Homo sapiens: one gene and its partner. The protein of the gene in region 1 purifies or fractionates together with the protein of each later gene. This does not show direct contact. Each region holds a gene or a part of one and is shown on either strand. Other genes may lie near its edges. The genes, in order: POTEH and MME.

Region 1 (3,920 bases):
CAGATGTTGGCCCTGGCTTGGACAGGCAGGGGGCACCGGGGCAGGAGCTGGCTGCGATCCTGTGGCCCCAAATGCCCCCTCGCTGATGGCCTCGTGTTCTGGGTGTGGAGCAAGGAGGAGCAGGTATCGAAGGCACCTCAGGCAGGTGCTGGGCTCGGTGGGCGTCTTGTGCTCCATGATTTTTTTTTTCAAATTTTATTATTATTATACTTTAAGTTTTAGGGTACATGTGCATAACGTGCAGGTTTGTTACATATGTATACATGTGCCATGTTGGTGTGCTGCACCCATTAACTCGTCATTTAGCATTAGGTATATCTCCTAATGCTATCCCTCCCCCCTCCCCCCACACAACAGTCCCCGGTGTGTGATGTTCCCCTTCCTGTGTCCGTGTGTTCTCGTTCCATTCCCACCTGTGAGTGAGAACATGCTCCGTGATTTTGAGGCCATTTGCAGCCAGCTCCGCCAGCCGGTGCTCTGAGCTGCAGCAGCGGCCATGCACAACAGCACCACCAGGAGTGTCCTGGGGGCTTTCTTCAGAGGAGGCTGTCAGCATCCTCAAGTTCCAGCCACTTAGCCCCAGTCCTGCTTCAAGAAGCTTTTTCTTTCACCAGAGGCTTCTCAATGGCCTGAAAGCTCGGCTGACTCCCAGGAAGTTTGCCGGGAACACCAGGCTGTCAGTGACATTTGTGGTTCCAAGACTTATGCAGGTTGCACGCATCCGCAACTGTCTGTGCCACGTGTACTGACACCACCAGAGATGCGCACGCCGCACGCGCACGCCGCACGCGCACGCCGCACGCGCACGCCGCACGCGCACGCCGCACGCGCACGCCGCACGCGCACGCCGCACGCGCACGCCGCACGCGCGGCAGTGGCTTGGCTGGCTTGTAACGGCTTGCACGTGCATGCCGCGCGCGCACGCCACACGCGTGGCAGTGGCTTGGCTGGCTTGTAAGGGCTTGCACGTGCATGCCGTGCGCGCACGCCGGACGCGTATAACGGTTTGGCTGGCCTGTAACTGCTTGCACGCGCATGCCGCACGTGCGTAATGGCTTGGCTGGCCTGTAATGGCTTGCACGCGCATGCTGCACGCGCGTTAACGGCTTGGCTGGTCTGTAACAGTCGGCATGCGCACACTGCACGTGCGTAACGGCTTGGCTGGCCTGTAGCGCTTGGCTTGGCTTTGCGTTCTTTGCTTGGCTTGGCATTTGTCGCTTGGATTGACATTTCTTCCTTGGACTGACGTTTTTTCTGTCACGTTACTTTGCTGGACTTGACCTTTTCTCTTCTGGGTTTGGCATTCCCTTGGGTGGGCCGGGTGTTTTCTTGGGGGGTGGGGTTGGCCCTTCCTGGGGTGGGCGTGGGGTCGCCCAGCGTGGGTGTGGGCTTTCCCCAGGTGGGTGTGGGTTTTCCCTGGGTGGGGTGGGCTGGGCTCCCCTGCTGGGGTTGGCAGGTTTTGGTCGGGACTTTTCTCTTCAAACAGATTAGAAACCCGGAGTTATCTGCCAGTTGGTGAAACTGGTTGGTAGACGCGATCTGCTGGCTACTACCGGCCTTCCCTGGCTGTTAAAAGCAGATGGTGGCTGAGGCTGGTTCAATGCCGGCTGCCTCCTCTGTGAAGAAGCCATTTGGTCTCAGAAGCAAGATGGGCAAGTGGTGCCGCCACTGCTTCGCCTGGTGCAGGGGGAGCGGCAAGAGCAACGTGGGCACTTCTGGAGACCACGACGATTCTGCTATGAAGACACTCAGGAGCAAGATGGGCAAGTGGTGCTGCCACTGCTTCCCCTGGTGCAGGGGGAGCGGCAAGAGCAACGTGGGCACTTCTGGAGACCACGACGATTCTGCTATGAAGACACTCAGGAGCAAGATGGGCAAGTGGTGCTGCCACTGCTTCCCCTGCTGCAGGGGGAGCGGCAAGAGCAACGTGGGCACTTCTGGAGACCACGACGACTCTGCTATGAAGACACTCAGGAGCAAGATGGGCAAGTGGTGCTGCCACTGCTTCCCCTGCTGCAGGGGGAGCGGCAAGAACAAAGTGGGCCCTTGGGGAGACTACGACGACAGCGCTTTCATGGAGCCGAGGTACCACGTCCGTCGAGAAGATCTGGACAAGCTCCACAGAGCTGCCTGGTGGGGTAAAGTCCCCAGAAAGGATCTCATCGTCATGCTCAAGGACACTGACATGAACAAGAAGGACAAGCAAAAGAGGTAACCAGGCCTGGGCTGGGAGGAGGTGGGATGTGGGAGGATGATGGGGACATACCCTCCTGGCCGGGGAGGAGGGGAGCCTGGTTTTCTTGCCTCCACAGGCCTCACACCACCCTGGATGTGGAAACCTCAGAGAGTTCAGGGCACAGGCCCCTTTATGAGCAGCAACACAAAAACAAAACTTTAGCTGATTTCCAATCAAATCATAATTTCCTTCCTAGAACACGAATAGACTGTTTTGAAGTGATTTAACTCGCAACGTTGTCGATGCAGCAGATTATTTTTAATGTACAGATTTTAAAACAATGTTCTATACATTAAAAAAGTGTATATTGAGAACTAAGAATGAAGCCCCATAACACATCAACTTCAGGGCTAAATATTCTTCAAATAAAATCCAGTATGGATTTTATATCAATGTACACTATGTAAATATGTTCTTTACTGAGTAATCTTAGAAGGAAACTGAAATGGGAAGATGGTTCTTGTGCTTGAATAGGAAGATTGAATTTTCTGAAGATGTGAGCTTTTTGGCTGGGCGTGGTGGCTCACACCTGTAATCCCAGCACTTTGGGAGGCTGAGGAGGGCAGATCATGGGGTCAGGAGATCGAGACCATCCTTGCTAACACGGTGAAACCCCGTCTCTACTAAAAAATATAAAAAAAATTAGCTGGACGCGGTGGCAGGCACCTGTAGTCCCAGCTACTCAGGAGGCTGAGGCAGGAGAATGGCGTGAACCTGGGAGGCGGAGCTTGCAGTGAGCCGAGATCACGCCACTGTAGTAGAGCCTGGGAGACAGAGCAAGACTCCGTCTCAAAAAAAAAAAAAAAAAAAAGTGAGCTTTTTCTATTTATCACTTTTACTTAAGCCAAATAAAAATAGCAGTTTTAGAGTTTTTAAATTACACATGCTGTCTTTTATTATTGTGCTAAGTTAATTTTTTTGTAGCAGAATGGACAAAGGCTTGCTTTTCCAGATGTCAAAATGTGCATGTTATTTATTTCCACAAATTGTTTACTAACAGCTGAAAAGACATCAATGAATAAAACAGAACAGGAAATTTAGAAATACCGAAATATATGTAGGAATTTAGCGCTTGATAATGGTGATGTTTTGTATTATTTAAAAAAGATGGATTGTTCATAATTCATTTTTGGAGAAAACTAGCTAGATGTTTATATCACAAAAATCAGAGTATAGATTAAAAATTTTAAATATACAAAAAGAGAAACATACCAGAAGAAAACACAAGTGCCTATTTACATATGCAGATACATATATATATATATATATATATAAATTTCTTTTTTTTTTTGATGGAGTCTCACTCTGTTGCCCAGGCTGGAGTGCAGTGGTGCGATCTCAGCTCACTGCAACCTCTGCCTCATAGGTTCAAGCAATTCTCTGCTTCAGCCTACTGAGTAGCTGGGATTACAGGCGCCTGCCACCACACCTGGCTAATTGTTTTGTATTTTTAGTAGAGATGGGGTTTCACCATCTTGGCCAGGCTGGTCTTGAACTCCTGTCCTCGTGATCCACCCACCTTGGCCTCCCAAAGTGCTGTGGTTACAGGCGTGAGCCACCATGCCTGGCCTATATATGCAATAAAATAAGCACATTTTAAAATTGGGCAAAGTACTTTTTTGCATATCTACCAGTGACCTATGTGCATAGGAAAAGATAGCATTCCTGGTAGAAGAAGGAATTT
Region 2 (3,820 bases), on another chromosome or scaffold:
AGAAGGGGACCGCTGTGCATTATCTCACCATGATGAAAATATCTTTCAAGTAACAGAATGCCACCTCTCCTTGTATTAATAATTAAGTAATCATCAAAAGTTTTCTTGGTATGTGCAGAATTAAAATAAAAGGAGTGGACAGTTCTGAGAGGTGTTTCATCCAGGTCTTGATGTTCCACAAGCCTGTCTGTCAAGGCTGCCATCGACAAATATGCAGTGTACAACCTGCATGACTATACAGGTGGAGGTGGTCCCACTTTCTCTTGTAAACTGTATTGATCACGTCTTAGCTTGGCTTCTCTGGCCTCTGGATAATTTAGGACCACACTTCTAACATATGCTTCTGCAGACCCCTCAATTCTCTGTTGTCTTTTTCTTTTTTTTGGAGATAGAGTCTTGCGCTGTCTTCCAGGCTGGAGTGCAGTCGTGCAATCTTGGCTCGCTTCAACCTCTGCCTCCTGGGTTCAAGCAATTCTCCTCCCTCTGGGATTATAGGCGCGTGCTACCATGCCTGGATTTTTGTATTTTTAGCAGAGATGGGGTTTCACCATGTAGGCCAGGCTGGTCTTCAACTCCCGACCTCAAGTGATCCACCCGCCTTGGCCTCCCAAAGTGCTGGGATTACAGGCATGTTGCCATATAAGGCAACATATTCAGAGGCTCTGGGAATTGGGTGTGAATATCTTTGAGAGGCCATTATCCTGCCTACCGTTAAGAGGGAAGCATTGATAACATCTTGAGACCGTTTAAACCAGTGGTACCCAGTCATAAGTGACCGTGCTGCCTGCAGGGGACATTTAGTAATGGCTAGAGACATTTTTTGGTTGTCACAACTAGGAGAGGACTGCTACTGGACATCTAGTTGGTAGAGGCCAGGGATGCTACTAAATATCCTATAATACACAGAATAGCATCCACAACGAAGAATTATCTAGCACAAAAATATCAATAGTGATTGAGTTGAGAAACCCTGATTTAAAGCACAAGATTCCTTGAAATCTAAGTTAGGGAGGTTACAATGCAATGGAAATCAGTTTCAGGATTCAGACTTACACGGAAAAGTCTGCAAAATCACATACAAGTTTTATAACTCTAAGTTTTTGATGACCTTATAGGGTAAATAAGCGATGAATAATACTTTGAAGCATTTTGATCCCTGCCTTAAGTTGTTATTTCTTAAGTGGTATTTGTTTTACTTTAGGTCTGGTGTAATCTTTCATACTGATGCATTACACATATAGGCAAGTTAATTTAAAGTATACATAAACATCATTTTATGTACATCATAAATATTTAAATCCTAGATGCTCAGATTTTAAATATGTAACACCAAACAGATTTGAAACAGCCTTCTGCAATATTTTACTTCTGTCTTGGTATGGCTTGACTTCTGTATTCCTTGACTTCAAAGAATCAAAGATAAGTACATTTGCTATGACATTCCCTTCCACTGGAAGAAAGGTTCAAGTTGGGGCCATCTTTCATATAATGTAAGCACCCTGAGTGTCAATACTTGCTTTTCCCATTCTCAAGAATTTCTGAGCTCAGGTTTGAACCCACCCACTCTCTTAAAGTGACCTATAGACTTGCTGGTAAGATATTTTATATTTTTTCAACATCTCTCTTTTCATATTTCTTTCTTTTCTTTTTTTTTTTTTTTTGAGATGGAGTTTCAGTCTTGTTGCCCAGGCTGTAGTGCAATGGCGCAATCTCAGCTCACTGCAACCTCCACCTCCTGGGTTCAAGCAATTCTCCTGCCTCAGCCTCCTGAGTAGCTGGAATTACAGGCATGCGCCACCACACCCGGCTAATTTTGTATTTTTAGTAGAGATGGGTTTTCTCCATGTTGGTCAGGCTGGTCTTGAACTCTCGACCTCAGGTGATCTGCCCGCCTCAGCCTCCCAAAGTGCTGGGATTACAGGCGTGAGCCACCGTGCCCAGCCTTCTCTTTTCACATTTCTTTTTCTTTCCATCTACTCTACTCTGGCCACTCTTCTTTAATACTTGCTTTTGTCCAAGATTTCCTCTAGGGTTTTCCTAATTTGCAACAACTTCTAAAAGAAATAGTTGTATTTTTCTGTGGCAGAAAAGATTTCCTAACCAGCAGAAGACTGTGTGTGTGTGTGTGTGTGCGCGCACGAGTGTGTGTGTTTATGAGTATGCAGAGTGTATCCATGAGGGTGTGTGTCATCTTATTTATTCTCCTAGGAAGAATAGTAACTACCAATGTGAACAAGTATTCTAATGGCTTGTGAACCAACAGAGCAGAATGAAGAAAAATATACAGCTATACAGCAACCTTGTTTACCACTGAAGTTATTTCTATTGTATACATTTCTCTGCCAAGATACATCCTGCAAGGTGTTTTACATTTGGTTTGATTTCTAAGCTACAATTAAAGGATACAGGTTAAATACATTTTAGTGAGTTGAGACTTGCCAAACACTATTTAAAAATCCTATCTCTAAACATTAAGTCACATTTAAGATTCCAGATTCTGAATGTCACATTGCTCCTTGGGAGGAAAAACCTGCCTAGATCTCTGAGGCAAAATCACTTGTCGTTTATAGAAATACACCTACCTAGTCAAAAAATCCAGTTTCTTCGAAAATAAAATTCAAGGAAAAGAAGAGAAAAAGGAAAAATAGTGAGAGAAGAGAGAATCTATAGATTAAGATACCAAAGAGACATGTCAAGTGTATTAAAGACAGAGGAATTAACCCTTAGTAGTCAATATGTAAGTGGAAGTTTCCCGAAACAGGACAGCCTGAGCATATAATAGGGTAGCTGGTAGAGAGAGGAAGCATAGGAGGATCTGGGGAGGAAGTAAACGTTAACTTTGACAACTTGGGCACATGCTGACTTTTGCACATGACCACGGAGATCCCCCAGCCAAGGTACCTGTGCAGCCATTTCCCTGGGGAATAAAGAAACTTCGTTTTTGGGAAAAACTTACTATGTCGAGCAGCAAATGGCTAACATCTAAATCAAGTCTCCCTCACGCTCCCCACATCACATCTCAGGGTGTCTAGTCATTGCTCTTGTGACCCAGAGCAAAAAAATCCATCAAAAAACGATACAAAAAAAAAAAAAAACCAAAGGGCACAGATTCAGGATATTAGACTATAACCTAGAATTGCCAGATATTTTCCCGTCATTTTTTTGCAAAGTTCAGTGAATAACAAAAATCCAAGTAAAGAATATCCAAGACTGGGTGCAGTGGCTCATGCCTGTAATCCCAGCACTTTGGGAAGACAAGTAGGAGGACTGCTTGATCTCAGGAGTTCAAGACCAAGCTTGGGCAACATAGTGAGACCCTGTCTCTACAAAAAAAAAAAACAAAAAAAAACAAAAAAAACAAAAAACCCACAACCTAGCCAGGAATGGTGGCAGGTGCCTATAGTCCCAGCTACTCAGGAGGCTCAGGCAGGAGGATGCCTTGAGCCCAGGAGATCAAGGCTGCAGTAAGCTGTGATCACAATACTGCACTCCAGCCTGGGTGACAGAGCAAGATCCTGCCTCAAATAAATAAATAAATAAAATTAAAAATATCCAGCAGAAAATGGTTAAAATTATTTGGAACAGTTTATTTATTTCTTATAAGACACATAGATGTTAGAAAGGAGGTTTAGAATCTCTTGTTAAAGGACACAAATATTGTGTTCATATCCCAGGTGCTGCCCTCAGCTACCACCTTCCTTTTTCTTGAAGAAAGAAGAAATACTCCCATTTTCACCACACTCCAATTGATGGGATTTATATAGCTTCATACACTTCTCTGTTTTCTGCTCTGACTTATTTTTCTTCTCTTCTAATCATT

The links.
Region 2: the proteins of POTEH (region 1) and MME purify together in Homo sapiens (co-immunoprecipitation; one large-scale study listed by IntAct). This does not show direct contact.

Annotation. Positions count from the first base shown.
Region 1 is NC_000022.11:15,688,499-15,692,418, forward strand, and holds the start of POTEH (POTE ankyrin domain family member H), read left to right. Parts: upstream 1-1,527; 5' UTR 1,528-1,579; coding exon 1,580-2,211; intron 2,212-3,920.
Region 2 is NC_000003.12:155,086,525-155,090,344, reverse strand, and holds part of MME (neprilysin), read right to left. Parts: intron 512-3,820; coding exon of another isoform or gene 465-511; exon of another isoform or gene 1-464. UniProt on the Homo sapiens protein: Thermolysin-like specificity, but is almost confined on acting on polypeptides of up to 30 amino acids. Biologically important in the destruction of opioid peptides such as Met- and Leu-enkephalins by cleavage of a Gly-Phe bond.